Regions from separate parts of the Homo sapiens genome. Here region 2 is linked to region 1. The links come from fine-mapping of genetic effects on gene expression. A gene starts in region 1. The other region holds a variant in brackets. All regions are shown on one strand. Distances are between the middles of the regions. Region 1 holds the start of RBM15B (RNA binding motif protein 15B). Region 2 overlaps DOCK3 (dedicator of cytokinesis 3).

What was found. PIP is the estimated chance that this variant, and not a neighbour inherited with it, causes the effect.
Region 2: its variant is the best candidate, but not a certain one, in a credible set for the expression of RBM15B in whole blood (Lepik 2017, PIP 0.54).

Annotation. Positions count from the first base shown.
Region 1 is chr3:51,388,881-51,394,249 of GRCh38, forward strand. RBM15B (RNA binding motif protein 15B) reads left to right here and starts at 2,405. Exons shown (of 1, transcript NM_013286.5): 1 at 2,405-5,369. The coding sequence starts at 2,520. The coding sequence ends at 5,192. It overlaps MANF (mesencephalic astrocyte derived neurotrophic factor), which reads left to right. Exons shown (of 4, transcript NM_006010.6): 4 at 25-517. The coding sequence ends at 209. RefSeq lists enhancers at 1,879-1,928, 3,914-4,419, 4,420-4,927 and silencers at 2,249-2,728, 2,769-2,848, 2,959-3,018.
Region 2 is chr3:50,857,118-50,862,486 of GRCh38, forward strand. All of the region lies in intron 3 of DOCK3 (dedicator of cytokinesis 3), which reads left to right. Among named protein-coding and RNA genes, the nearest start is that of MIR4787, 180 kb to the left of the region's middle. The variant G/A (reference allele first, on the strand shown) is at 2,838.

The sequences.
Region 1 (5,369 bases):
GACTCTCCCTGCTCTCTCCTCCAGACAAGCAGATCGACCTGAGCACAGTGGACCTGAAGAAGCTCCGAGTTAAAGAGCTGAAGAAGATTCTGGATGACTGGGGGGAGACATGCAAAGGCTGTGCAGAAAAGTCTGACTACATCCGGAAGATAAATGAACTGATGCCTAAATATGCCCCCAAGGCAGCCAGTGCACGGACCGATTTGTAGTCTGCTCAATCTCTGTTGCACCTGAGGGGGAAAAAACAGTTCAACTGCTTACTCCCAAAACAGCCTTTTTGTAATTTATTTTTTAAGTGGGCTCCTGACAATACTGTATCAGATGTGAAGCCTGGAGCTTTCCTGATGATGCTGGCCCTACAGTACCCCCATGAGGGGATTCCCTTCCTTCTGTTGCTGGTGTACTCTAGGACTTCAAAGTGTGTCTGGGATTTTTTTATTAAAGAAAAAAAATTTCTAGCTGTCCTTGCAGAATTATAGTGAATACCAAAATGGGGTTTTGCCCCAGGAGGCTCCTACCAGTTTCTGCTTTCCAGTTGCAGAGTTTGGGGGGTTATTCATTCCCATTTATCTCTCAACCCACCAGTGCTGAAAATACCAGAGCAGGACATAGGGGCTGGGGCCAGCTGATGTGTGTGGGTGTGTACCACTAGAGGGCAGCAGGCACTCAGCAGAAAGGAGGTGGCGGGGGCGGGGGGTGCTGCGCTTGATACCCTGCCCCTTGATACAGTATCTGTCTTACCCGCCCAAGAGAGCTGGAGGCCACAGCTCTAGGAGGAGTGAGTCTGGGATACATTGGAGGGCCTTATATTGTGGCTCAGTACAAGCAAGACAGGGTGTCTGGAGTGTGGTTTTTCCACAAGGATATCTTCAATCAGTGCACGTCAGCACTGACATCTCTATAAAGATGCTGTTGGCCTGGCCACCTACTTGCTCTTTTGTCCATTCCAAGCCTCTGATGTCTGTTCCAGTTTTTGCAAGTCTGGCAGGAGTCAGCTTATACAAAGAGGGAGTGGGAAGCTGCCTTTTGCCTTTGTTTACCCTAGATTAGTCTAACAGTTGAGGTCCAGGGTTTTGCTGGAGTCTGCTTCTTAAGCCACTCTCTGTGGCACTGGTGCTTAGGAAACCCAGTTGTTAGTGTGAGCTGTGGCTCAATGAAGACACCTGTAGAAACCACCTGAAAGGACGGACTAAGAACCAGTGCTTTCCAAGTAATTGGTCTTGCCTCAGATCACTTCACTTGTGTCTCCTAAGCTCAGTTTGCCTGTAGGAGGCCTTGCTGCTGTGGAACCCATTGCTTTCTTCCAAGACCTTTCCCCCTGCACCTGCCTGAGCTACTCCAGGAGCTGCTTTCTCTTTGTGCGAAGAGGGCATGACTTGGTCTGCTCTTCCCCATCGCAAGGATTCTGTGCCAGAAATTGGGTCAGGTTCTACCATGGCTCCAGCAACTGTCCTTGGAGAATGAAAGCTTCCTCAATGGGCTTGAGCACCTGGGCACCCTTTCCCTCACCTCACCTGGGGAGAAGAGGTCGTCCTGAAGGTGATGAACAGGAGGGTACTGGCCAGCGAGGGGTCAGCGTGGCAAGGTGTGATAACTGCTGGCACTATCTGTGCATATGGCCTCTTCATCCTTGGCTCTTACGGCCCTACCTTTCCAGCCTGCTATCTGCCCACAGAAGAGGGTGGGACCCAAGAGTGGCGTTAAAGAGTCTATTCCAACTCCATCAACTGCAACTGCAGGCTTGTCTCTGCTTTCGGTTATTACCTGCGTGACAGCAATTGTCCTCACGGCCTTTTCGGGGACTGCTGCAGGTGAACCTGCACGTGGAGAATGCGCAGAATGTGGGCCTTGGGTCCTGGGCAGGGTCTAAGGATAGGCATGCATTAGTCCTTGGCGCCGTCAACGCCGGATCCCAGGCAGGAGATGCCAACGAGGGTGATGTGGGGTTTGCTCAAGCCTAGTCCTAGGACTGAGGGGATACTACATAAAGAGACCACTGACTGGGTCAATGCCCCAGATCCCAACGGCCATGGAAGCTGCCACTCCTGCTCCAATCAGCGCGGGCTCCAGTGCCTGCAAGAGGAGATAGCTGGACCCAGAGCGGCAAAGCACGGCTGGGAGCACAAAGCGTTAGGTCGTCTCGCCGGCCTCTCAGGGTTCACTACACTCCGCGTAGCCTCAAGCATCGGCCATGCGGGCCGCGCGGTGGCGCCAGAGCGCGCGGCCGGTCCCACTCACCCAGCACTCACAGGGTCACCTGGCACTGGGCGACGCAGCGCGATGAGGCAGGCCCGGCGCGGGTCTTGCTCCGCCCGCCGCAGAGTCACGTGGCAGGACGGCGCACCTTGATAACGCAATGCCCGGCCCCTCGGCGCCGCTCCCGCCCCGCCCCGCCGCCACCGCCGCGCCGAGTCCTTTTGTCCAAGATGGCGGCGCCGGGGGCGCTGCCTCCTCGGCCGCCGCCTCCGCCGCCGCCGCTGTGAGAAACCTACGGGCCGCCCGCCCGCCGCGCCAGCGCCATGAAGCGGCAGAGCGAGCGAGACTCTAGCCCGAGCGGGCGCGGCTCGTCATCGTCCGCCAAGCGTCCGCGGGAGCGCGAACGGGAGGCGGAGGCGGGCGGGCGGCGGGCGGCGCACAAGGCCTCTGGCGGCGCCAAGCACCCGGTTCCAGCGCGGGCCCGCGACAAACCCCGCGGCAGCGGAAGCGGCGGGGGCGGGCATCGCGACGGCCGCGGCACCGGGGACGCGAATCACCGCGCGAGTAGCGGGCGCTCCTCGGGCTCCGGCGCTGGCGGCGGGGGACGCGGCGGCAAGGCCTCGGGGGACCCGGGCGCCTCCGGCATGTCGCCCCGCGCGTCTCCTCTGCCGCCGCCTCCGCCACCGCCTGGGGCCGAGCCCGCGTGTCCCGGCTCATCCGCGGCCGCGCCTGAGTACAAGACGTTGCTCATCAGCAGCTTGAGCCCCGCGCTGCCCGCCGAGCACCTCGAGGACCGGCTCTTCCACCAGTTCAAGCGCTTCGGCGAGATCAGCCTCCGCCTGTCGCACACGCCTGAGCTGGGCCGTGTGGCCTACGTGAATTTCCGGCACCCACAGGACGCACGCGAGGCCCGCCAGCACGCCCTGGCCCGGCAGCTGCTGCTCTACGACCGCCCGCTCAAGGTAGAGCCCGTGTACCTGCGTGGCGGCGGCGGGAGCAGTCGGCGAAGTAGCAGCAGCAGCGCCGCCGCTTCCACGCCTCCCCCAGGGCCGCCCGCGCCCGCCGACCCGCTCGGCTACCTCCCGCTACACGGAGGCTACCAGTACAAGCAGCGCTCGCTGTCCCCCGTCGCTGCCCCGCCCCTGCGGGAGCCCCGTGCCCGTCACGCCGCCGCAGCCTTCGCCCTGGATGCCGCTGCTGCCGCCGCCGTGGGACTGTCCCGGGAGCGGGCCCTGGACTACTACGGGCTGTACGACGACCGTGGGCGCCCCTATGGCTACCCAGCTGTGTGTGAGGAGGACCTGATGCCCGAGGATGACCAGCGGGCCACGCGCAACCTCTTCATTGGTAACCTGGACCACAGCGTATCTGAGGTGGAGCTGCGAAGGGCCTTCGAGAAATATGGCATCATCGAGGAGGTGGTCATCAAGAGGCCTGCCCGTGGCCAGGGCGGTGCCTATGCCTTCCTCAAGTTCCAGAACCTGGACATGGCCCATAGGGCTAAGGTGGCCATGTCGGGCCGAGTGATTGGTCGCAACCCCATTAAGATAGGCTATGGCAAGGCCAACCCCACCACTCGTCTCTGGGTGGGTGGCCTGGGACCTAACACGTCACTGGCGGCTCTGGCCCGAGAGTTTGACCGCTTTGGGAGCATTCGGACCATTGATCACGTCAAAGGAGATAGCTTTGCCTATATTCAGTACGAGAGCTTGGACGCAGCCCAGGCCGCCTGTGCTAAAATGAGGGGTTTTCCCTTGGGTGGACCAGACCGCAGGCTCCGCGTGGATTTTGCCAAAGCAGAGGAGACTCGGTACCCCCAGCAGTACCAGCCCTCGCCACTCCCTGTGCATTATGAGCTGCTCACAGATGGATACACCCGGCACCGCAACCTGGACGCCGACCTGGTGCGGGACAGGACGCCCCCACACCTTCTGTACTCAGACCGAGACCGGACTTTTTTGGAAGGGGACTGGACCAGCCCCAGTAAAAGCTCTGACCGCCGAAACAGCCTTGAGGGCTACAGTCGCTCAGTGCGCAGCCGGAGTGGTGAGCGTTGGGGGGCAGATGGAGACCGTGGTTTGCCCAAGCCCTGGGAAGAGAGGCGGAAACGGAGAAGCCTTTCCAGTGACCGTGGGAGGACAACCCATTCACCATATGAGGAACGGAGTAGGACCAAGGGCAGTGGGCAGCAGTCAGAGCGGGGCTCCGACCGCACCCCTGAGCGCAGCCGCAAGGAGAACCACTCCAGTGAAGGGACCAAGGAGTCCAGCAGCAACTCCCTCAGCAACAGCAGACATGGGGCTGAGGAACGGGGCCACCACCACCACCACCACGAGGCTGCAGACTCTTCCCACGGGAAGAAGGCAAGAGACAGCGAGCGCAATCACCGGACCACAGAGGCCGAGCCCAAGCCTCTGGAAGAGCCAAAACACGAGACCAAAAAGCTGAAGAATCTTTCAGAGTACGCTCAGACACTACAGCTGGGTTGGAATGGGCTTCTGGTGTTGAAAAACAGCTGCTTCCCCACGTCTATGCATATCCTAGAGGGGGACCAGGGGGTGATCAGCAGTCTCCTCAAAGACCACACTTCTGGGAGCAAGCTGACCCAGCTGAAGATCGCCCAGCGCCTTCGACTGGACCAGCCCAAGCTTGACGAGGTCACACGACGCATCAAGCAGGGGAGCCCCAACGGCTATGCGGTCCTCTTAGCCACCCAGGCAACCCCCAGTGGGCTTGGCACTGAGGGGATGCCCACAGTAGAGCCCGGTCTGCAGAGGCGGCTTCTCAGGAACCTGGTCTCCTACTTGAAACAGAAGCAGGCCGCAGGGGTGATCAGCTTGCCAGTGGGGGGGTCCAAGGGCAGAGACGGCACAGGCATGCTCTACGCCTTCCCACCCTGCGACTTTTCCCAGCAGTACCTCCAGTCAGCACTAAGGACATTGGGCAAGCTAGAAGAAGAACACATGGTGATAGTCATCGTCAGAGACACTGCCTAGCCCAAGCCTGTCTTTCCCAGCGTCATGTTTGTGTCACAAAAGCAGTTATTTTAAAATCTGATCCCCTCTCTACCCTACCACTTTGGTTTGAATTATCTCCTGGGTTATTTTGGTTCATTTGGGTGGGGATCAAAGTCCTGTCCACCACCAAAACTAAGTTCTTAGATTTTGGGGGAT
Region 2 (5,369 bases), 530 kb before region 1:
ATTGGCCTATAGTTTTCTATTTTTGTTGTGTCCTTGCCAGATTTTTGTTCTAGGATGATAATGGTTTAGTAGAAGAGTTAGGAAGGAGTTCCTCCTCCTTGATATTTTGGAATAGTTTTGGTAAGATTGGTCGCAGCTCTTCTTTGTACATCTGTTAGAATTCGGCTGTGAATCTGCCTGGTCCAGGGCTTTTTTTGCTTGGTAGGTTTTTTATTACTGATTCAATTTTTAAACTTCATATTGGTCTGTTCAGGACTCCAGTTTCTTCCTGATTCAATCTTGGGAGATTCTTTTCAAAAATTATTTATTTCCTTTAGTTTGTGCACAGAAACTAAAGAGCTTCTGCACGGCAAAAGAAACTACCATCAGAGTGAACAGGCAACCTACAGAATGGGAGAACATTTTTGCAGTCTACCCATCTGACAAAGGACTAATATCCAGAATCTACAAATAACTTAAACAAATTTACAAGAAAAAACACCATCAAAAAGTGGGCAAAGAATATGGACAGACACTTCTCAAAGGAAGACATTTATGCAGCCAACAGACACATGAAAAAATGTTCATCATCACTGGTCATCAGAGAAATGCAAATCAAAACCACAATGAGATACCATCTCACACCAGTTAGAATAGCAATCATTAAAAAGTCAGGAAACAACAGATACTGGAGAGGATGTGGAGAAATAGGAATGCTTTTACACTGTTGGTGGGAGTGTAAACTAGTTCAACCATTGTGGAAGACAGTGTGGTGATTCTTCAAGGATCTAGAACTAGAAATACCATTTGATCCAGTAATCCCATTACTGGGTGTATACCCAAAGGATTATAAATCATGCTGCTATAAAGACACATGCACACGTATGTTTATTGCAGCACTATTCACAATAGCAAAAACTTGTAACCAACCCAAATGTCCATCAATGATAGACTGAATTAAGAATATGTGGCACATATATACCATGGAATACTATGCAGCCATAAAAAAGGATGGGTTCATGTCCTTTGCAGAGACATGGATGCAGCTGGAAACCATAATTCTGAGCAAACTGTCACGAGGACAGAAAACCAAACACCACATGTTCTCACTCATAGGTGGGAACTGAACAATGAGAACACTTGGACACAGGACGGGGAACATCACACTCTGGGGCCTGTTGTGGGATGGGGGTCAGGGGGAAGGATAGCATTAGGAGAAATACCTAATGTAAATGACGAGTTGATGGGTGCAGCATACCAACACGACACATATATAAATATGTATCAAACCTGCACGTTGTGCACATGTACCCTGTAACTTAAAATATAATAATAATAATAATAATAATAATAATAAAAATAAAATGTTTAGTATAGGCTCCCAGTCTCTTCTGGCTTGTAGGGTTTCAGCTGAGACGTCTGCTGTTGCCCTGATGGGGATCCCTTTGTAGGTGACCTGCACTTTCTCTTTATCTGCCTTTAACATTCTTTCTTTTATTCAAACCTTGGAAAATCTGACAGTTATGTGTCTTGGGGATGATCTTCTTATGTAGAATCTTGCAAGAGTTCTCTGTATTTCCTGAATTTGACTGTTGGTTTCTCTAGCAAGGTTGGGGAAGTTTTCATGGATGATATCCTGAAATATATTTTCCAGGTCGTTTGCTTTCTCCCCCTCCCTTTCAGGGATGCCAATGATTCATAGATTTGGCCTCTTTTTTACATAATTTTATACTTCTCAGAGGTTTTGTTCATTTCTTTTTATTCTATTTTTCTTTATTTTTCTCTGTCTTATTTTAGAGAGCCAGTATTCAAGTTCTGAGATTCTTTCCTTAGCTTGGTTATTCTCATGTTAATACTTGTGATTACACTGTGAAATTCTTGTATTGTGTTATTCAGCTCTGTCAGACCCGTTAGGTTCTTTTTTATATTGGCTATTTTGTCCTTTAGCTCCTGTATCACTTTATTGTGGTTCTTATTTTCCTTGGGTTTCATATTGTCATCCTCCTGACTCTCGATTATTTTTGTTTCTACTTGTATTCTGAATTCTGAATTCTATTTCTGTCATTCCGGCTAGTTCAGCCTGGTCAAGAACTCTTGTTGGAGAACTGGTATGGTTTTTTTTTTTTTTTTTTTTTTTTGAGACGGAATCTGACTCTGTCGCCAGGCTGGAGTACAGTGGCATGAACTTGGCTCACTGCAGCCTCTGCCTCCCAGGTTTAAGCGATTCTCTCCTGCCTCAGCCTCCCAAGTAGCTGGGACTACAGGCACATGCCACCATGCCCAGCTAATTTTTGTATTTTTAGTAGAGACTGGGTTTCACGGTGTTGGCCAGGATGGTCTCAATCTCTTGACCTCGTGATCCACCCCCCTCGGCCTCCCAAAGTGCTGGGATTACAGGTGTGAGCCACTGCGCCCGGCCCGGTGTGGTTTTTTTGTAGGACATATGACACTCTGGCCAGAGTTCTTACATTGATTTTTTCTCATCTCTGCATGTGGGTGTTCCTTTAACTACAGTGTAGGTTGAGTACAGTCAGTTGACTTTTCTGGATGTTTTCACCAAGCTGAGGCTTTGTGTGGGGGTTTTATTTGAAGCTGACTTCTTGTCTCTAGTTTCAGAGGGAGTTATGTTAGTGAGGTATTTTTGGTGTTGAAGTTTTGGGATATAATCCAGAAGGCGACACTTAGGCTCATTGGTCAGTTGGTAGACTCTTGCTCAGTTGTGTGGCTCCTCTGTGTTTCCTCATAGTTGCAGCAATGTTCCCTCTCAATGCTGTGGAAGTGTGGGTTTCTCTCTTTCTTGAGTGCTGGCTGTAATTTATGACTTTGTACTTCTTGGCTGCCCACTGCAGCTCTGTGCC[G/A]AGTGTTTATGTTTCTTTCCCAGCTTAGAGGCAGCAGAGGAAGAGATCTTGGTACTGGTTGTGGCCAAGGGTCATTTGGTTGACTCTTGGGGACCCCAACCCAGAGAGATGCAGGTCAGAATTTGCTCAGTGCAGTCAGTCCATGATGGAGGGTTTGTACTGTGGGCCCAAGTCAGGGGTTCCTTGTCTGGTGATGAGCCATGGGGGTTGTATGGGACCTGCAGGAGACAGAATGGCCTGCTCTTTTTGGGTTGACTGCAGCTTGTTGGAGGTGTGGATAAGGCCCTTAGGGTCTTTTCTTCCTCTTTTCTGAGGATAGGAAGGGCACTTCCATTGCAGAAGCAGTGCCAGAGAGGCTTTCAGATGCCCCTGGAGGCTCTGCTTAGGGAGTTGCTGAGTTGGTACTGGCTTGATAGTTCTGGCTCTATAGTTGATAGTTGAGGCTTAGGCCTGGAGGACTTACCCAGTGAGGAGATATGGGAACAGGTACTCATACAATAATCTGGCCACTTTTCCAAAGGGCTGCTACTGTATGCTTGGGGTATACTCAACTGGCTGCTGGCCCAAAGCCACTTGTAGGAGTTGGCTGGAGACCACGGTTGAGAGGTCCTGTTTGGTGAGGAGTAATGGGTCAGGACCTACTTAAAAAAGCAGTCAGGCCATGTTTTGGTAGAGCAGATGTGCTGTGCTTGGGGTCCTGTTCAGTCCCTGCTCACTTCAGAGACTCCAAAGCCCAAAGTCTGGAATGGCCAAGTCGCCCAAACAGCAAAGATGGCAGCCTGCCCCTCCCCCTGGGAGCTCCTTCTTAGGGAGGTTTAGTGCCACTACTTGTAGCTGGCTGGAATTCCAAGCCAGTGGGTCTTATCTTCTGAGGTGCCATGGAAGTGGGGCCTGCAGGCCGTTGCTGCTGAGCTTTCTGGATTCAGTCTCTTTCCTAGGGGTACATACAGCAGTCTAACCTTCCACTTTGCTGTAGCTCTAGTTACTTTTGCTGGAAGCCCAAGTATCTAGGGCTCCAGGGTCTCCATGCATGCCTGAGTGGCTGCTCTGCCGAGACTCTACGTAGCTCAGACTGAAGACTGAAAGTCCTGGTTTAGTGGGATCTCCTGATCCGAGGGTTGCAAACATCTGTGGGAGAAGCATGGTTTTCCAGGGTTGCTCATTCACTCACCACTTTGCTGGGTGGTGGAGGATCTCCTGGCTCTATGTTGCTCCCAGGTGGGTCGTTGTCCTGTCTTGCTTTTCTTTGTTCTCTGTGGGTCAAGTTGTTTCCTTGATTAATCCCAATGTGAGTACCTGGATGTTTCAGTTGAAGGTGTTGTATTTACTCACCCCTTTTGTTCCTGTGAGAGCCACATACACTAGCTTCTTCTAGTCAGCCATCTTTGCTACTCCCCAATGGTCAATTTTTAAGAATGTCCCATGCGCAGATGAGAAAAAGGTATATTCTGTGGTAGTTGCTTGGAGTATTCTGTAGATGTCTATTAGGTCATTTGGTGAAGAGTTTAATTTAAGTCCACAGTTTCTTTTTTCTCTGCCTCAGTGATGTGTCTAGTTCTGTCTGTGGGTATTGAAATTCTCCACTATTGCTGTATGGCTCTCTGTCTCTTTTTGTAATTTTGGTAGTATATGTTTTATATCCTGGGTGGTATGATATTGGGTGTGTATATATTTGAGATAGTTAAATCTTCTTTTGAATTGAACCGCTTTATCATTGCATGATGGCCTTCTTTGTCTTTTTTTTCCTGTTGCTGGTCTTAAGTCTGTTTTATCTCATAGAATAAGAGCAACCCCTGCTCTCTCTTTTTTTTTTTTTGCTTTGCATTTGTGTGATCTTTATCCCTTTATGTTGAGCCTTTGGGTGTCATTACATATGAGATGGCAGCAGAAGGTTGGGTCGTTTTTTTTTTTTTTTTAAATACAAATTGCCACTCTGTGTCTTTTAAATGTGCCATTTCATTTATTTATGTTCAAGGTTGATACTGCTATGTAAGGTTTTGTCCTTGTGATAGTATTGTCAGCTAGTTGCTTTGCCGTCTCAATTGTATAATTGCTTCATATGATACGTGAGCTTTATACTTACATGCACTTTTATGGTAGCAGGTATCTTTCATTTTCATCTTTAGAACTCCTTTGAGCATTTCTTGCGAGATTGATTTGGTGGTGATTATTTCTTTTAGCAGTTGCTTGTCTGGATGTGCATAATTGTTTGGCTTAGTTCCTGGGTGCTTTCAGGGGGCCAAAGCTCTGTATGTGTTCCCTAGTTGTGGATACCTTCTGTGTGGCAGCTTTCTCAGATACTGTTTGTTGTAGCCATGTATTGGATGAATTAGCTTACATATATCGTTCAGGGCAGAGGATAGGGAGAACTCAGGAAACTTATCTAGCACCAAGCCCTTCGGGCAGCATATCTTTTATTTGGTGGTACAGTTCAGGCCGAAATCCAGAAGGTGGTGCTTAAGAGTAAGAGCTGGTTCTCCCTTAGGTAGGCTGATGGTAAGTGGAAGCACCTGCCTTGATGTGGGGTTGGTG